Homo sapiens: one gene and its partners. The protein of the gene in region 2 purifies or fractionates together with the protein of the main gene of each other region. This does not show direct contact. Each region holds a gene or a part of one and is shown on either strand. Other genes may lie near its edges.

What was found.
Region 1: the proteins of ST8SIA1 (region 2) and IPO13 purify together in Homo sapiens (affinity purification with mass spectrometry; 3 studies listed by BioGRID and IntAct, with this or other methods). This does not show direct contact.
Region 3: the proteins of ST8SIA1 (region 2) and RUFY1 purify together in Homo sapiens (affinity purification with mass spectrometry; 2 studies listed by BioGRID and IntAct, with this or other methods). This does not show direct contact.

The regions. Positions count from the first base shown.
Region 1 is NC_000001.11:43,953,318-43,956,964, reverse strand, and holds part of IPO13 (importin-13), read right to left. Parts: intron 3,503-3,647; exon of another isoform or gene 3,482-3,502; intron 646-3,481; coding exon 505-645; intron 406-504; coding exon 264-405; intron 156-263; coding exon 1-155. UniProt on the Homo sapiens protein: Functions in nuclear protein import as nuclear transport receptor. Serves as receptor for nuclear localization signals (NLS) in cargo substrates.
Region 2 is NC_000012.12:22,286,183-22,289,829, forward strand, and holds part of ST8SIA1 (alpha-N-acetylneuraminide alpha-2,8-sialyltransferase), read right to left. Parts: intron 1,112-3,647; coding exon 967-1,111; intron 1-966. UniProt on the Homo sapiens protein: Catalyzes the addition of sialic acid in alpha 2,8-linkage to the sialic acid moiety of the ganglioside GM3 to form ganglioside GD3; gangliosides are a subfamily of complex glycosphingolipds that contain one or more residues of sialic acid.
Region 3 is NC_000005.10:179,599,014-179,602,660, reverse strand, and holds part of RUFY1 (RUN and FYVE domain-containing protein 1), read right to left. Parts: intron 3,394-3,647; exon of another isoform or gene 3,272-3,393; intron 3,177-3,271; exon of another isoform or gene 3,026-3,176; intron 2,589-3,025; exon of another isoform or gene 2,563-2,588; intron 770-2,562; coding exon 675-769; intron 598-674; exon of another isoform or gene 395-597; intron 285-394; exon of another isoform or gene 1-284. UniProt on the Homo sapiens protein: Activating adapter involved in cargo sorting from early/recycling endosomes. Regulates retrieval of proteins from endosomes to the trans-Golgi network through interaction with the dynein-dynactin complex.

The DNA of each region.
Region 1 (3,647 bases), on a different chromosome or scaffold from region 2:
AACTGCTCCTTCTCGTCTGAGGACCAGAATCCATATTCCTCATCAGAAGGGAACTGGGCCTTGTGCAGAAGCACATCCACCAGCTGGAAGTAGACTGGCCGGTACACCTGCTGGTATACAGCCTGCTTCTCTGCCTCAAAGGATAGAATATCATCCTGAGAGAGCCAGGGAAGAGAATTAGCCACCTCACCAGCAGTCATAGAAGCCCATGATCCACCTTCTTCCACCACAGCCCAGTCCTACTGGAGGTCACACAGACACACCTGCAGTGTGTACCAGAAGGTGAGGGTTAGGGAGCTGGTGGTCTCATTGACAGGATAGTGGCCAGGGATGCCTGTGCAGAACATAATCATGTTGACGAGTGCCAGGAAACTCTGCCAGTGCTCTACTTGGTCCAGCAAGGCCCTGGGGAGAGAGTCAGGTCATTCTACCTTTCCAGGGACTTCCAGAACCCCATTTCTTAGAGGGCCCTACTATCCCACCCCAAGCTGCTCCACCCTTTACCGGGAGTGGTTCTCGCCCAGGGCCACAGCGATGCGACAGATGCCATGGGAGGTCTCCATGTCCCCATTCTGCACTGCCTGCCGCAGTTGTTCCTGCAGACCCAGCACCAGCGGGATGAGTTTCAGGAGTGTGTTCACGTACCTAGAGGCATGAGGTGAGAAAATCCATCAGAGCTCTCTGCTCAACCCCACACTGGCTTTAAGAGAAAGGCATAATCTCCTTGTCTTCCATCAAAGCTCCCCTTCCCTTATCAAATCCTAAGCAAAAAAAGGGTCAGGGTCTACATGGCAGATTTGATGTTCCCAATGTTGGGAAGAACCTTAGATCAGGGACCCCCAGAAGAACTCTGAGAAGGACGTATGAGAAGGTCAGCATTATGGGTTGAATTGTGTTCTCCAGTTGGACTGAGAGCTGATTCCGGAATGGGTTAAGATTTTTTTTTTTTTTTTTTTTTTGAGATGGGGTTTTGCTGTGTTACCCAGGCTGGTCTCGAACTCCTGAGCTCAAGAGACTCAGCCTCCTGCTCAGCCTCCAGAGTAGCTGGGATTACAGGTGGAGCCACCACATCCAGCTAGGTTACAACTTTTGGGGAGATTGAGATGAAGTGAATATATTTTGCATGTGGGGATAACATGAAGTTTGGGGCACCAGAGGGCAGACTGTCATGGGTCAAATTAAGTCCCCACAAAAAGATACATTTTTTGATAAATCTTAATCCCCAGTACCTCAAAATGTGATCTTATTTGGAAATAAGATAATTGCAGATGAGGTTATACTGGAGTAGGATGGACCTGAACTCCAATATGACTGGTGTCCTTATAAGAAGATATCTATGTGAAGACAGAGACATACAGGGAGAATGCCACGTGAGGATGAAAGTAGAGAGTGGAGTGATCCAGCTGGAAGCCAGGGAACACTGAAGACCGCCAGCAAACCACAGAGCTAGGAAGAGGCAAGGACGGAGTCTCCTACAGGTTTCAGAGGGAGCACAGCCTTGCCAACACCTTGATTTCAGACTTCTATCCTTCACAATTGTGAGACAGTTAATTTCTGTTTGGCTTTAAAGCCACCTAGTTTGTGGTACTATGTTATGGTAGCCCTAGGAAACTAATACAGTCTGTCAGGGGTGATTGAACAAGAGTGGGATACAGAAGAGTAAACACAGGCTCATAAGCCCTGATTTAAAAAAAAAAAAAAGACTTTGGAAGGCAGCAACAGCTCATGAGAGCATCAATCCCTGCCATCCGCTCCACCCTCTACCACCAAATCCCAACTCTTGAGGAGTGTGGTGGCAGCAGGGAGGAAGAGAAGTAGACAATGAACTCAGAGAGAGCTAAGAGGCAAAACAGACAGGACTTGATGACTGACTGGATATGAGGAAGGAGAAGAATAAAGACACCTCTCAGGTCACTGGCTAAACAACTAAGTAGACGGTGGAGCTATTTACTGAGACCTGTGGGGTGAGTAGCGGGGAACAGTAACACCTTTAATGGGAGGTGGAAGGTGATAAGCTCAGTCTTAGACAAGTTGATTCAGAGACACCTGATAGGTTATGCAGGCAGAAGCATCTAGAAAGAGTTGGATATAAAAGCCTGAAGCCCAGCATAGAGGTTAGAGCAAAAGCCATAGATTTGAGAGTCATCAGCTAACAGCTGGTAATTGAAGTTATGGGAATAGATGAGAATTGCCCAAGGAGAAAGTGTTGAATGAGAAAAAAATAAGAGGGTCCAGATCACAGCCCTGAAACACAATGATCTCTAAAGGAGAAGGACAGACAGCCCAGTATACAAAGGGGACTGAGAGAAGCCTGGCTCAGCCCACTGGATCCCTCTCCAGCACCTTGGTCTGTGGAGATGAGACTAAGCAGAGGAAGCCACACTCTAATAGCGGGGATCAGATGCTTGGGACCCCTCTGTTGTCAATCATAGTGTCACCATAGCAATCTATGTTAGGGAGTTGGGGACTGAGGATCCCAGAGGGAGTTCTATCTGGACTTGCCCCAAGCAGGTTGCTAGGCAGTAGCCTCATATCCTTGGTGGGAGGATGAGAAGGACAAAAAGAGGCAACCAGCCTAGGGACATCGGCCTCCTTCTCCACATCCCCATTCTGGTAGGAAAAGTCACCCATGCCAGGATATCCCCAGCCCAGAGACAGCCCCAGGGGGTGCTGCCTGGAGACAGCCGGGATAGCTTCAGTCTCCTGACCCTGACACGGGCTGCACCACCAGACAATGGGCATTTTCAGGCCAGACTCTGGCACAAAGAGAAGGGGCAGGGCCAAGGCTATGGCCCACAAGCTCCTCAGCAGCTGAGATGGGTGCAGGAGGTAGCGCTCTACTCCCATAGCTCCCCACTGTATTCTAAGACTCCTTCCTCCACCTGCCAAAGTTCATGCAGATGGCAGGGTACTCGGCAAATGTTCTTCATTTGTCTCATCTGAGCCTCAAAATAGGACAAATCAAGGATAATACAGCCTCAAAGAGCTCAGAGTATCATATCACTCAAGGTCATACAACAACTTAGAAGCAGAATCCAGGTTGAAACTGCCCCTTAAACTGCTACAGGTCTGCTTTTCTTTCAGGGCCCAACCAGAATTTCCCCAAAGGATTTATGTACGTCTCAGCCCATATCTCCAGTCCTAACTGATGGGAGCCCCCAAGAGCCTGCCTAATTCACTTTCCCTCCATCCCCAACTCCCAAGGACAAGCTTTTCCAGCATTAAAAACATAGTTCAGGAAAAAAAAATACATTTCAAAGGAGAGAGCCAGGAAGCAGCAGCAGCTGTGGAGGGGCAGGAAAAGGGTGACTTGAGTGCAAGCTCAGCCAAGGGGAGGGCCAATGTCAGGACACCTGGGGAAGGCGTGCCTGGATGACCCAGGAGTCAAAGTCACTGAAGGTGACTTTCACAAGCCAAAGCTGGGAAATTAGACTGGGGAGAGCAAGGGCCAGGCTCGGATTCTGGGCTGGATGCAGCTCACCCATGGGAAGAAGTTCTTGCATAAATTTCCTACCACCTGAGCACCTGTGTCTGCGACCTGTGAGTGGACAGAAGAACAAGTCTGAGGTCCCAGAGGTTTCTAGGTTTGGGGGAAGGAGACAGGGAGGATGTCTTTATGACCACAGCTGAGGCTGGGTTCAAGAGGC
Region 2 (3,647 bases):
AAAAGAAAAACCTTATCACTGCATTTTAAGACCATTAAACTAGACTAAAATATCTAAGGATGAGCTAGTCAGCATGGCTGTTTTATAGAGAGTGTGACTTTGGATCTGGTAGAACCTGTGCCTCAGCTTTGTGGGATTCCTCCTTTAAAGTCTCATGGGCTATTAACAGAGACACATGAAAGATTCAGTCCCACTTTCTAAGGCTTAAAAATTCTCTTTCTGTACAATCATCTGAGCAAACCAAGGGTGGCTAAAAGATGTCTTGGGGAGGCCATGATTCATTTCTGAATTTTTCCCTAATTGCAATTTTGCCTAAGATCTCCCCTCCCCAAAACTAGGGTTCCCTAAAATAAAATTTCCCTTTTCCCCCCTCTTGCTGCCTACATGTATATTAGAAAAACATTTTATTTCAATGCCCAGAAAACCAAGAATAAATATTAAGTAAGCAAAGCTTGATTTAGACCACTTCAAAAGTGGTCAAGTTGAATTATTCCTCTCCATATCCACCACTCCTCCATTTCACAGTGGTAATCTAACCACAGGGTTAACATTCAAGAGCTCTAAGAAGCAAACTTCTCACCATATGGTCCCCACTCCCTGAGCAACATCAGTCCTAAGAAAACATTCCAGTATCACACAAATCCTCATGGTCATTCCACAGCCAACCTCAGAACACTAGAATTCCACAAGTCCCTGATCATTCATTTCTTGCTTCCTTCAGTCTCATAGGACTCAAATCAGAAAGGCTAGGAAAACTGTAACTCTGTAACATCCTGCTTCCACCCTTGCATCAAAACACTGTGATTTATTCACACACACAGATGACAGATATAAAGAAAAACATTTAAAGAGAGAAGAAAGAAAACAAAAAGTCAATCTGATGAGTAAGGCAAACTCAATTATCCCTTTTCTATGACAGCAAGAAATTTAAGAAACCATACTGAAGGCAACCAACTCTATACTAACCTGTGGGAAGAGAGAGTAAGTTGAATTGTCAATGGTGAATGAGTATAAAAACTCCCCGTCATACCACATGCTCTTCCCCATAGGGGAATTCATTTTAGTCATAGCAAAGAGATGGGCAGGGTCGCAGCAGTCTTCCATTTGTTTCCTAGGAGAGAAAACAGAGAGAGAGAAAAGAACAGCAGGTTAAATGAGGAGCAGATTCATTCACTTGTCATTCCCACAGAGATGTGCCACCTTACCTCAGTGCCAGCTCACAGAAGCATAGCATCTCCAGGGTGATTAGACTACTATTAATTCACTCTTCTAGCCACCAAAATGCGTGACTAGACTATTTCACAGCAAAAAAAAAAAAAAAAAGTTTAAGAAAAATACATCAGATTCATTAGATTGTGTTCAGATTCAGGTGAGATATGTCAAAAGATAAAAATAACCATTACAGTTGCAGATGTACTGATTGATTTAAACATCCAGGTCCAGAAAAGACTTGGATAGCTAACTTTGGAGACTGTTGAGCTATTCAGCTACAGCAGAGGTGCATCTCTATCTTCATTAACAATCAGGTGGTTAAATTCAGTGAAAAGAGACTTCCAGCAAGCTGTATGGCAAGGGAATACACAGAGTGACCCTAAAGAGAGTGCACTCCCCAAAACTGGTGACAAGATAGAGAACAATCCCTTGAAAATCTTTTGAGTAGAAATAGAATGAAATGAATGATGTGATCTCAGACACTGGAGAGCAACCTACCTTCTCACTGCTAAACCTCATGGGCCTTTTTGGTTCTCACTTTGGCCTCTCAGAAGTGTTTGACACCGTGATGAGCTCTATGACTTTGACAGAAGTTTCTCCCAGCTCCCTCAGTGTCTGAAGCACCAGCATCACTGGGGTAACCTCACCCTTCTGGGCTGACTTGCAGGCTACTCCCCAGCTAGCCCCTCAAGTCTAAGCCATGTTTGTTCTATGGGGAAATCTTTATACGACCCTCCAATTAACAATCTGTCAGAAATAAATTCCACTTACTCATGAGTAAAAGAGCTTATTCACCACTTCCTCCTCTAGGAAGATGAATAAAACAAATTGCTGGCATAAACCACTTCTGAATGACCTCACCCAGAAACGCTTGCTCAGACATCTTTAGCTGAAAGGGGACGGTGGAGTGGGAGACTTGACTTCAAGTCCTGCCTCTGCAGCTTACTAACTCCATGACTGGGCAAAGAGAAGGGGCTGCAGAACTGCCCTATGAGACTTTCGTTGAGAGTTCACTGAGAACGTACTGGTAGAGCAAACACTGAAAGTTCAATACGTGGTAGGTGTTCTCCTTCTTATTGTCACACCGTCCCAGCCTCATTGTTGCCAGGAATCAGCCTAGTCAGTAAGGCTGCAGCTGCAGGAGCCCCGCGGTGTGGGCAAGCTTCCTCAGCCTGCGGGGGAGGTGCTCTTCCTGCCACACTGTGCCTCCCCTTGCACTCTCTGAGATCTTCGTTGGCTTTGCCTTCGTGAAGGTTTCAATGGAAAGAAGGACAGAAGAGAAGGGCTCAAGGCAGACAAGGGGAGAAGAGCTCGGGAAGAAAGCTTTCATCTTATCAAACTTGGTAGACCGAGTGTCTCTTCTTGCTCCTACGCTGGCCCTCCGTTTCTCATTAGCTGCTTCTCTTTCCTCTTCTTCTCCACCCTCATTCATTTTTATTGGTGTTTTGCCACCCAAAAGGTGGCTTCCAGAGATGGTAAAGGTTTTCTTTGTTGTTTGTTGTTGTTGTCCTTGTTTTTTGAAACAGGGTCTCACTCTATTGCCCAGGCTGGAATGCAGTCACTGCAACCTCAAACTCCTGGGCTCAAGCGATCCTCCTGCCTCAGCCTCTCAAATGGTTGGGATAACAGGCATGTGCCACCATGCCTGGCTAAGGTAAAGTTTTATACTGGACTGCAAACATTTTGTCAGAAGTGCATCCTAGGCTCTTATTGAGTCAACAGAAAACACCTGGACATGGTTTAAGACTATCTTTAAAAATAAGGAGCATTATCACCAGCACGATGCTAAATCTGGGGGGAGGATAGGCTAAATTTTTAGTTCCTATCCCATGTCTGCTGATATCTTATATTTTTTAGTCCTCAGAGCAACCCTAAGAGATAATTAAGGGTATGGTTATTATTATTATTATCATCATGATTCCTCCCAATTCTCATCTGAGGAAACAGGCTTAGAGCGGTTCCAGGACTTGCTCAGGCCACACAGGGCAGAACAGGAAGCCAGGTCCGCAGAGTCCAGGCTTTCTCCTCTTTGCGAGCTACCTGCTCAGAACCATTTTGATTCATTTGTATCTTTCTCTGCCCTAAAAAAAATGCTGTGTAAACACTGGCCAACTGCCGCAGTACACCAGGTGCCTTCATAGGTATTTTTCTACTGAATTCTCACAGTAACCCATGAGCTGGATGACTTTAATATTCTTTTCTCAAGTAATTTATCTCAGGTCACGTAACTAGGGAAACGGTGGGGCAGGGCTTTGCTTCCAGGTCTTTGTACCTCACATCAGGTACTTATTTCCAACAAGACCATGGCTCTGGCCTCCAACCAAGCTGAACTTGCCATTCTGTACAAAGTGCTACAGGAGGTTCAGAAGGAAAATTTGTCACAGCCATATAGCACCTTACGTTGCCTAGTACCTGGCAACTTGCAAATCGCTTTC
Region 3 (3,647 bases), on a different chromosome or scaffold from region 2:
CCATGCGCCCTGACTCGAGGAGAAAAGCTACCCACTATGTTGAAAATGCAGAATCATCACACAAATGGGCAAGTTCCACAGTCCGCAGTGTGATCCACCCCAAGGCCCAGGCGTCCACAGCAACCTATCTAGACTGGGACACCAAGGAGGAGAGCTGTCAAGTCAGAGGGGAGCAGAACTACCAGGGTCTGCACCCCATCAGCACCTGCAGCAGAGACAGACAGACTCTGGCGGATGCAGTGGCCAGTTCCCCGAAAGGAAGGGGGCTGTGCTGTGCAAGGCGGGTGAGTGCACCTCTACTGTGCCAGGCTTCCGTTCCCAAACCAGCCCTGCTCCCTCTGGCCTGACTGTAGGCTGACCAAGCGATCCTCTCATTGCCCATCTGTTCCCTCAGGCCCTGGATATGAAGCTAAGGAATAGGAGTGTCCTGGTCACTAGGAATGAACGTGCTTCCTGAATTAACTAAGAGCTCGCTGACACCCCATGTGGGTAGCAGAGATCAGTGCTGGGCCCCTCTGAGGCCGGGCTTCCTGAGAGCTCATCCGTGAACGGCGGACTGAGCTCCTAAATGGCCCACCCTCCGTTCGCCAAAAGGAGGTAGGTTTGGGGCCTGAGGGATGTGGTGGGTAGCCTGGTGTGCCTGCAGTGGCAGACAAGGGGAGTGGGGTTCTTACTGGCTGAGGTGCAGGCCCATTTCCTGGAGGGCTTGTTCCTGCTCCTCGCAGATCTTCTGCAGCTCTGCCTTCTCGTCCTGAAGCTCCCGCAACTCCTAAAATGAACAAACCAACCAGATGCTGGACAGAGGATTACACGGTCCTTTTTTTTTTTTTTTTTTTTTTTTTTGAGACAGGGTCTTGCTCTGTTGCCAGGCTGGAGTGCAGTGGCACGATCTTGGCTCACTGCAACCTCCGCCTCCTGGGTTCAAGCGATTCTCCTGCCTCAGCCTCCCAAGTAGCTGGGACTACAGGTGCCCGCCACCATGCCCTGCTAATTTTTGTATTTTCAGTAGAGACGGGGTTTCACCATGTTGGCCAGGATGGTCTCAAACTCCTGACCTCGTGATCTGCCCGCCTCGGCCTCCCAAAGTGCTGGGATTACAGGCGTGAGCCACTGCACTGGCCTTTAAAAAAAAAAAAAAGATTCAGCAACCAGAGCAACAAGCAGATCAGAATGTTTTTCAAGAGCAAAAGGTGGCCAGGCACAGTGGCTTATGCCTATACTTCCAGCACTTTGGGAGGCCAAGACAGGTGGATCACCTGAGGTCAGGAGTTTGAGGCCAACCCGGCCAACATGGTGCAACCCTGTCTCCACTAAAAATACAGAAATTAGCTGGGTGTGGTGGCAGGCACCTGTAATCCCAGCTACTTGGGAGGCTGAGGCAAGAGAACTGCTTGAACCCGGGAGGCGGAGGTTGCAGTGAGCCGAGATGGTGCTACTGTACTCCAGCCTGGGCGACAGAGCAAGACTCCATCTCAAACAAAACAAAACCAAAAAAAAGAGCAAAATGCAGTCCTGTATTAATGTCATTCAAGATTATTTCTTGCTAGCTTACTCTTGACACTGGGCAGCTAAAAGGCAAGCACTCGACGAGGGCTCTGCAGCTGGGGACAGAGACATGGGACAGGATAGTTACATTCATCAGCCACATTAAAAATAGTTACCCTCAGCTGGGCGCAGTGGCTCACACCTGTAATCCCAGCACTGGGAGGCTGAGGTGGGCGGATCACCTGAGGTCAGGCATTCAAGACCAGCCTGGCCAACATGGCAAAACCCCTCCTTTAGTTAAAAATACAAAAATTAGCAGGGCATGGTGGCACATGCCTGCAATCCCAACTACTCGGGAGGCTGAGGCAGGAGAATCGCTTGAACTGGGGAGGCGGAGGTTGCAGTGAGCCGAGATCACACCACTGCACTCCAGCCTGGGCAACAGAGCAAGACTCCGTCTCAAAAAAAAAAAAAAAAAAAAAAAAAAAAAAGTTACCATCATAGGACAAATGAGGCTTTGCCTATTTGAGCTTCTTTTTAAAAGATAAACATTTTACAAAACAGATTGCTATCTCAAAAAATCTATAGAAGAACTGTACACAAAATCACACGAACCTTGCATCAGCAAAGACTAGTTTGAAAGGTGGTTTCCTGTTCAATTCTGAAAAAGCTGCTTTTTTGGAAAGCACTGGTCAAGGATGATGAAGGGGGTGACCTGGGACCTCATTTCATGGCTAGACCACTTGGAGGCTGGCTAGACCATGTGAGGAGCCCTGCACGGAGGGAGTTCCCCAGGGGGCAACGGCACTGACACCTGGGGCCAGTGCACCTTGAGCCAGTCTGTTAAGGCCAGGATGGAGACCCAGAAAGTAACTGGGGTTTCTGGGACCACTGGGAGCAGCGGTGGAGCTCGGGCCCGAGTGGCGGGGTGGCTCTCTGCACACCCTGTGCCGTAGCTTCTGCTTCCATGCACAGGCTTGCAAAGCACAAAGCTGTGGCTTAACTGGGGTTATTAGACATTGTTTTGTTCCTATTGTTGGGGCGGGCTGTAATTGTGTAATTCGAATCTTTTGACAGAAGCATTCTGAAGCAGAATAAAGGAGGTATGCCCCGTGATGAGGCGGGACTTTCTGAAAGTCCTCTTCTGCCCTCCACTTCCTCCCTTCCACTCTCCAAGCCTGATCTGGCTCTTGAGGAAGCTCTCCCTTCCCCAACAACTCCAGGCACTTTCCAATGGAAATCAAAAGGGCCTTTCCTGACTCGCTCGAATCGTGCAGTGTGTCCATTACCACGTTCAACACAACAAAATCCAGGTCCAGAAGCCACCCTGGCCCTGAAGGCCCCTCCGGGGCAGGTGCCGAGGGGAGGTCTGCTTTGGGCTCAGTTTTCCTGCAGCGCTCGGCAGCGCAGGGGCCTGAGAAGAGGGCACGCCATCCCCACGTGGGAGGAGCCCCCCAGAGCGCCCCAGGCTGCAGTCAGCTCCATCCAGGATCGCAGAGCCTCCTCCCCTCTGGGAAAACAGCCGATGATTTTACATTAGGGCAAATGTTCCACACGGCCTCGGAGTTTCCTGGGAGGTCCAGTTCCACAGCCAGACAGTGAAGGCCTGCTGGACCCCACTTCTCTCGCCCTCTGAAGCCCACAGCATCCAGGCCATGCCTCCAAGTGAGAGGGTCCTCCATGGAACTGAGGTGATGTAGGGGAAGTGGAGGGCTGGGGTCGGTCTGCTTCCCAGGGATGACCCGACCCTGGGCACAGTGGCTGAGGTGAGGCTGGCATGTGGTAGGAGATGTTTACTGGTTCCTCCCAGCTTCCTCTCCTGCGAGCCTACCACCCACTCTCCACACAGGAGCCAATGACCATCCGCAAACAGAACGGATCCTGTCCCTCCACCAGCTGCCCACTCTGGTAAAATAAAACCCACGTTCCTTCCCCTGGCTCCCAGGGCCCATGAAGGGCTTCCTCCTGCCTGCCGCCTGAGGCCGCCTCTTTGCTCCTCACACTGCTGTCTGCTCCTGCAGTCTCCACCCAAGAGGTGCTTTGCAGGGCATAACTCACTGGAGCCTCTGCTCACCGGTCGCTCCCTCCCCAGGCCCCTTGCACACGGGTGAGGACACTGTTCTGCTTTATTCTCTTCATGGCACTTGCCTCTATCTGAGCTG